Linked DNA regions of Homo sapiens. The protein of the gene in region 2 purifies or fractionates together with the protein of the main gene of each other region. This does not show direct contact. Each region holds a gene or a part of one and is shown on either strand. Other genes may lie near its edges.

Region 1 (3,652 bases), on a different chromosome or scaffold from region 2:
AATGTGAGCGCCTCTGAATTCAACTCTGCCAATGCCCAGTTTGGAGGGGCTCAGAGACCAACTTCCCCCAGTGTGGAGGTAGAGAAACTGAGGCCCAGGGAGGGAAGGCGATAGACAGGCAGAGGCCTAAGACCTCTGCAACCAGCGGCCCTTCCCGGGGGGACAGATGGGCACGAGGGCTCTCTGCAGCCAGGCCCTCTGCAGCCGGGAAGTGCCTGCGGTCTCCCATCCTGCCCCACCCTCCGTCACAATGAAGCCTCCCGAAGGCGCCAAGGCCTCCTGTCTCCTGATCTTTGCAGCCATGCTTCTTCCCCGAGGGCTCTCCCTGAATCCTGGGCTGCCCTTGGGCTCGCCCTGCACCCCCCTCCCCCACATGCCTCCTGTGGCCCTGGGCTTGGGCGTCTTCACTGTGTCCAATTTGCTGAACAGGAAACCAGGGTTAGGGAGACGAGGTCACCTGCCCAGGGTCATCGGATCAACAAGCAGCAGGGGCAGATGTGGGCCCAGGCCTCCTGGTTCCAGCCTCCGTGGACACCTGGCCCCAGCATCCCGCATTTCCCAAATGTACAGGGCATGTTTGTTCTGCCTGGGAACGTTTCCACTGGAGTCTGACCAACGTCACAAGGTCAGAGTCACCCAGGGTCTTTATTAGACACTACTGGGGAAGTGGAGCCCAGAAGGGTCACCCGGCCATCACCATTGCAGTGATGCAGGCATCGCTATCCTGAGCACTCTCTGTGTGCCTGGAAGCTCGGGGAGAGGAAGTGCCTTTCCCAGGCCTCCCGTCCTCTGCTGCAGAGCCTGGCCGTGTAGCCAGGTGGACTTTGGAGCTCCGTCACATGAGAATTCAGTCCCGTGCATGCTGCACGGTCCCACCTGCCAGTCAGCCGGGGCTCACAGGCCTGTGCTGCCCTTTGGACTTAGAAGGGGAAACACCTCATGGACCATGCAGCTGGGGCAGAGAAGATGGTTCTGGTCGGTGCCCACAACGTCCCTACTGGGCATTCAACCCCCTGCCCCTGAGTTGCTGGTGACTCAGCCAGCCCTAACCCTGGAGCCAGCAGGTGGTATCCATGGCAACTGCAGCCAGGCAATTGGCCATGCAGGATGGAGGGAAGGAGGGAGGAAGGCAGGCAGGGAGGACTTAAGGTGGGCAGTACCTGGGATTGGAGGCGTGAGTTCCCGGCGTCTGGAATCTGTTTTCACAGTGCAGTGAACCACTCTGCAAAAGCAGAGCTACTCAGCTGCCTGCAGGTAGCCTGGGCCATCCCAGAGGCCCTAAACCTTACTTTCCAGCCGCCCAATCTCCTGTGAGCAGCCTCACTGAGCAGAGGAGGTCCAGGAGCCCCAGAGCCACCTGTCCTGCCTCCTGCCTCCTGCCCCCTGCTCCAGAAGGCATTCAGGAAATATGTGGAAGCCTACCCCTGTTTGCGTGTGATGGCGCGGGTGGTGTGGTTGGGTTGCGGGAAATTCTGTTGTATGTTTTAAAACAGCTCTATTGAGGTCTACTTGACATATCATAAATTGCATTTTTTAAATATCAGATGGGTAATGTGCCAACATCATAACAAAGTTTGAGGGTGGCACCTCACACACACACGAGAATACCCAATCAGCACATTCATCAACTACAAAAATAATCGCATATTTTTTTGTGTCCAATTTAGCAAGTTTCGGCGTGCGGATGCGCCCGTGACATCAACACCACAATCAAGGGAATAGACATGTCCGTCTTAGGCTAAGCCCTTCCATCTGGGGTTCTCTTCATTTTAGAGTCAGGAAAACTGAGGCTTGGGCTGAGGAACTTGCCCTGCATCTCGTTTGACTGGTAGGCAGCAGAGCCAGGACTCCAACTCAGATCAGCTCGGCTCCTTAACCCCCTGCTCATAGGTACAAGACCACCACTGGAGACTCAAGGAAGGGAAGTCCTGGGCAAGTGTGATCTGATGATGCTGGCCCAAGATTCACCCAGCTCTGAGAGTCACCCCTGCTCCTGCCTCCTCCCAGAGGCACCTGGAGCCAAGAGAGGCAGCTCCACAGAAACACGGAGGGGCAGCTCCACAGAAACAGCTGGATCACCTGCATCGCCTCAGTGACCCGCCATGCCTCCTGCCCATCAGAGCTGTATCCTTTTTTTTTTTTTTTTTTTTTCAGACAGGGTCTCATTCTGTCACCTAGGCTGGAGTGCAGTGATGCAATCTCAGCTCACCACAGCCTCCACCTCTTGGGCTCAAGGGATCCTCCCATCCCAGCTCAGTGCCACCACCCCCAAGTAGCTGGGACTACAGGCACATGCCACCACACCTGCCTAATTTTTGTATTTTTTGTAGAGATGGGGTTTCACTACATTGCCCAGGCTGGACTCGAACTCCTGGACTTAAGCGATCTGCCTGCCTCAGCCTCTCAAAGTGCTGGGATTCCAGGCATGGGCCACTACATCCGGCCATCATGCTGTATTCTAACTGCCCTCTCCCCCACTATGAGCTCCATGGAAACAGGGACCATCTCCCAGATGCCTGTGGCAGGCACTTAGAACAATGCTACTAGTTCCACTCTCTGGAGGTCAGCTCCTCACCGCAAAAAGAGGGCTGGGGTGCCCTGAAGCTGTGGAGTCCTACACATGCTCTCATGGCCGAGCACAGTGGTTCATGCCTGTAATCCCAGCACTTTGGACGGCCGAGGTGGGTGGATCACTTGAGGTCAGGAGTTCCAGACCAGCCTGGCCAACGTGGCAAAACCCCGTCTCTACTAAAAATACAAAAATTAGCTGAGTGTGGCGGCACACACCTGTAGTCCCAGCTACTTGGGAGGCTGAGGCACGAGAATCGCTTGAACCTGGGAGGTAAAGGTTGCAGTGAGCCAAGATCGTGCCACCACACTCCAGCCTGGGTGACAGAGTGAAACTCTGTCTTAAATAAACCAAAAGAAACCAGTGAGCCCCTCCTGCCTGCCAGGTTGTAGCTGGGCAGGTGTGGGCTCTGAGGCCTTCAGCCTCTGGGGCTGGGCAGTGTGAAGCAATGCATGGACCTGGCGTGTGTACCTGAGACAGTGTGTGTGTGTGTGTGTGTGTGCGCGCGCACACACCTGTGTGCACCCAGGGGTGCGTACCTGAGAGTACACAATGTGTGTGCATGCATGTGTGTGATGTGTTTGGGCTTGCACATGTGTGCCTGTGTGCATGCACACGTGTGTGGGTGTTGGGGCCAGTGTATGCATGCAGAGAAATGAGCTGGGCAGATGGGCTTGGGAAAATGATGCAATCAGACAGCAGCGTTGCTCCTGCCCTCCCAGCAGCGGGTGGGGCACCCCCCTCCCTCAGCCTCCGCAGGTCCCTAAGCTGCATTTGCAGCCCGAGGCAAAAACTAAATGAAACTGAGGGTTTGATGTCGGGGGAGGAAGTGACAGGGAGAGAAGGAACCACAGCTGCAATCCAGTGAGCGCTCACTCCAGGCACAGGACAGAGGTCAAGTCCACCAGACATGGGTTTGAGTGGCTTCAGCTCTCTAGCATAACTGCTCAGCTGCAAAATAGGGGTGCAAACAGCCTGCTCCCCACAGGGCGACTGTAAGGATTGGGTGAGATGCTGGGGGAAGGAGCCCAGAGCTGGGCACCAAGCATGTATGTGCCCACTAAGCTCTGTGCACCGCTGCTA
Region 2 (3,652 bases):
TGAACAGGTGTCTTTCTTGACTGGGTGGTCCCTCAACTGGTGCAGGGAGAACCAGTTAATATAAACTAGGGGTTTAGGGACACGTCTTCAAACAAGAGTTGAAGGAAAGTTTAATTAATATAGTGTCCCCCAAATTTTAAGGCCCTTTGATACATTTTTTAACATAATCTCTTAAGCAATTCATTCTTTGATAAATTTATAAATTATCCTCCTGTTTCCTAAAGCAGAGATTTGTTAACCTAGAATCCAAAATTGTATGTATTTGCAATTTTCTGAAAAGAGTTCTAGAATTCATTAGCTATCAAAGGAGTCTGAGTTCCCCCAACCTCCCACTCCCCCAAAATTAGTAACTACACTTCCATAGCAACAACCTGTACACGAAATAATCAACATTTTTTTCCAGTTGAGAAACATTTGGTTGTAAACCCAGGGCTCCATTATTTTAGATCACTGCTATACCATTATTTTTTATGTACTATATTCTGAAACTGTTCTTTAATTTCCTATCTGACTGCCTCCCAGGAAAGGGTGGCAACTAAAGATTCCCGGGAGAACCGGCTATTTTAACCTCCCGCCTCCTGTAACTGTGGGGGCCTATTTTCTATTGGAGTATATTAGAAGCAATGCTCCAGGGGCTTCTTACCAGGTAAGGATGCCAGAGGTTCTCATCATTCTAGTCTTTGTTTTCTTTTCATACTTGCATTTTTAATTATTTCTCCCTGCTCCTTTCTTTTCTAAGCTTCTAGAATACCTTAAGCTCTTTGGAGGTGAGTATTAAGAAAGCCTAGCGGCCAGGCGTGGTGGCTCATGCCTGTAATCCCAGCACTTTGGGAGGCCAAGGCAGGCGGATCATGAGATCAGGTCAAGACCATCCTGGCTAACACAGTGAAACCCCGTCTCTATTAAAAATACAAAAAATTAGCCGGGCATGGTGGTGGGCGCCTGTAGTCCCAGCTACTTGGGAGGCTGAGGCAGGAGAATGGTGTGAACCCGGGAGGTGGAGCTTGCAGTGAGCTGAGATGGCGCCACTGTACTCCAGCCTGGGCGACAGAGTGAGACTCCATCTCAAAAAAAAAGAAAGCCTAGTATATCATGTGTTTTTCCCTTAGAAAACTGACAAAGCTCTTTTTTCAGCATTATTAGTCTAAAGTGTGTAATTACTTTTAGCAAAATCAGAAATACCTGAAATGTCCATATTACTTGTGGTTTACCTTCATACTCAGCTTTAATCCTCAGAGTTTCATCTGGTCCTTTATGCGCAGATGTTACTCGAAGTTCACATGGAATGCCAAAATTTCCACAGGCCTTCTTGATTTTTTCACAGTGACCAAGATCAGAAGTAGAGCCCATCAACACTACAACCCTGCACTGACTTTCTGATTTCAAAAGCAACTGAAGAAAAAATACGTGGATATGAAAAGAACATAAAAACAAAAATGAATAAATGAGCTAGAGTTTGTAGTAAAATTATATCTGGGCCCAATATTTTCTTTCTTAACAGATCAAATTTAAGACAGAGACAAACAACAAAAAGACAGGATTTATTTTTAAAAATCTCAATATATAAAGGAAAGTGGTCTTCATCAAGACCTAAAGAATTCAATTTTTATCAGACAAATTATTTAAAATAAACAGTAAAGATACTCAAAATCTTTTAATTTTCAGGAAATTATAATACAAAATATTTCATCCTAAGACCTTTAGTGCACTTTGTTTAATGGAAGCTTTAAGGTATGATTAGCCAAATCAGAAGTCATGTTCTAAGTCTTTGTAAGTTAATTGCTTGTAACTCAAAATATATATTCCTATAAGAATAATGTTCTCAAATGTGATTATGACCCTTGCATAATCACAAACCCCATTCAACTCCCAGAATTATAGTAATACCATAAAACTTAAAGGAATATTTAAAGTCACACAGAGTTCCATCCATCCCATGCTAATGGAACTCTGACTAGCAGTGCAGGTGAGTAGGAAATATAAGGTTTCTCCTACGGGGTAGGGAGGAGACAGATTCCAGGTTTCCCCAACAGGATCTGGGAGGTATGTATTGGCCAGCTTAACAGCACGGAGTTCCAGTATCCTAGTAAGGATAGCCCAGCTGATACATTTCCTAAAAGTGTTCCTCACTTTCAAAGTCACTGAAGAGCTGGGCGTGGTGGCTCACGCCTGTAATCCCGGCACTTTGGGAGGCCGAGGCAGGGGGATCACGAGGTCAGGAGATCAAGACCATCCTGGCTAACACGGTGAAACCCCGTCTCTACTAAAAATACAAAAAATTAGCTGGGCGTGGTGGCCAGCGCCTGTAGTCCCAGCTACTCGGGAGGCTGAGCTAGGAGAATGGCGTGAACCCGGGAGGCGGAGCTTGCAGTGAGCTGAGATGGCGCCACTGCACTCCAGCCTGGGCGACAGAGCAAGACTCCGTCTCAAAAAAAACAACAACAAAAAACAAAGTCACTGAAAAGAAAAGCACTATACTCTCCCATTTTTTTTTCTTTTGAAACAAGATTTTCTTAGAAGAAAAACACATAATACATACAGTTTTACTATAGAAGGTTTACCTCTACTCTCTCTGCAACCCACTCAAAGTTTTTCTTTACCATTTGGAGCCCTTCAGGAGTTACTTCTTTGAGGTCCCGATAAGACTAGAAAATAAGATAGAAAGTTTAGAAAACAAGTATCTCTTGCTACCTGAAACTATTTGGTTTCTGAGTTTTGGGGAGGGATTATGAAGAGTTTGTATAGCAAGGGATACTTCTGAAAATGCATCTTTTCACTTCCTGAATTAAACTAACAAAGTTCCATAGTAAAGTATACTTTTATTTTCACTTAAGGTTAAGTGTTTTCTGTACTAGCAACTACAATTAACTGCCTTGAGAATTTTTATATATTAAGTATAGAAAGGGTCTTGCTCTAATTTTGTTTTCTGTTATTTTTTATTTTAAATACATGTGCAGAATGTGCAGGTTTGTTACATAGGTATACATGTGCCATGGTAGTTTGCTGCACCCATCAACCTGTCATCTAGGTTTTAAGCCCCATATGCATTAGGTATTTCTCCTAATGCTCTCCCTCCCCTTGCTCCCCACCCTGCAACAGGCCCCGGTGTGTGTTGTTCCCCTCCCTGTGTCCATGTGTTTTCAGTGTTCAACTCCCACTTATGAGTGAGAACATGTGGTGTTTGGTTTTCCGTTCCTGTGTTAGTTTGCTGAGGATGATGGCTTCTAGCTGAATCCATTTCCCTGCAAAGGACATGATCTCATTCTTTTTCTTTCTTTTTTTTTTTTTGGAGACAGAGTCTCGCTCTGTCAACCAGGTTGGAGTGCAGTGGCACAATCTCGGCTCACTGCAACCTCCACCTCCCGGGTTCAAACAATTCTCTGCCTCAGCCTTCCGAGAAGCTGGGATTACAGGTGCCCACCACCATGCCTGGCTAATTTTTTTTTTTTTTTTTTTTTGAGACAAGGTTTCACTATCTTGGCCTGGTCTTGAACTCCTGACCTTGTCATCCACCTGCCTTGGCCTCCCAAAGTGCTGGGATTATAGGTGTGAGCCACCGCGCCTGGCCAATCTCATTCTTTTTTATGGCTGCATAGTATTCCATGGTGTGTGTATATCACATTTTCTTTATCCAGTCTAACACTGATGGGCA

What was found.
Region 1: the proteins of PAICS (region 2) and ASS1 fractionate together in Homo sapiens (co-fractionation; one large-scale study listed by BioGRID). This does not show direct contact.

The regions. Positions count from the first base shown.
Region 1 is NC_000009.12:130,447,842-130,451,493, reverse strand, and holds part of ASS1 (argininosuccinate synthase), read right to left. Parts: intron 1,639-3,652; exon of another isoform or gene 1,539-1,638; intron 1,223-1,538; exon of another isoform or gene 1,161-1,222; intron 1-1,160. UniProt on the Homo sapiens protein: One of the enzymes of the urea cycle, the metabolic pathway transforming neurotoxic amonia produced by protein catabolism into inocuous urea in the liver of ureotelic animals.
Region 2 is NC_000004.12:56,449,612-56,453,263, reverse strand, and holds part of PAICS (bifunctional phosphoribosylaminoimidazole carboxylase/phosphoribosylaminoimidazole succinocarboxamide synthetase), read right to left. Parts: intron 2,646-3,652; coding exon 2,562-2,645; intron 1,393-2,561; coding exon 1,212-1,392; intron 1-1,211. UniProt on the Homo sapiens protein: Bifunctional phosphoribosylaminoimidazole carboxylase and phosphoribosylaminoimidazole succinocarboxamide synthetase catalyzing two reactions of the de novo purine biosynthetic pathway.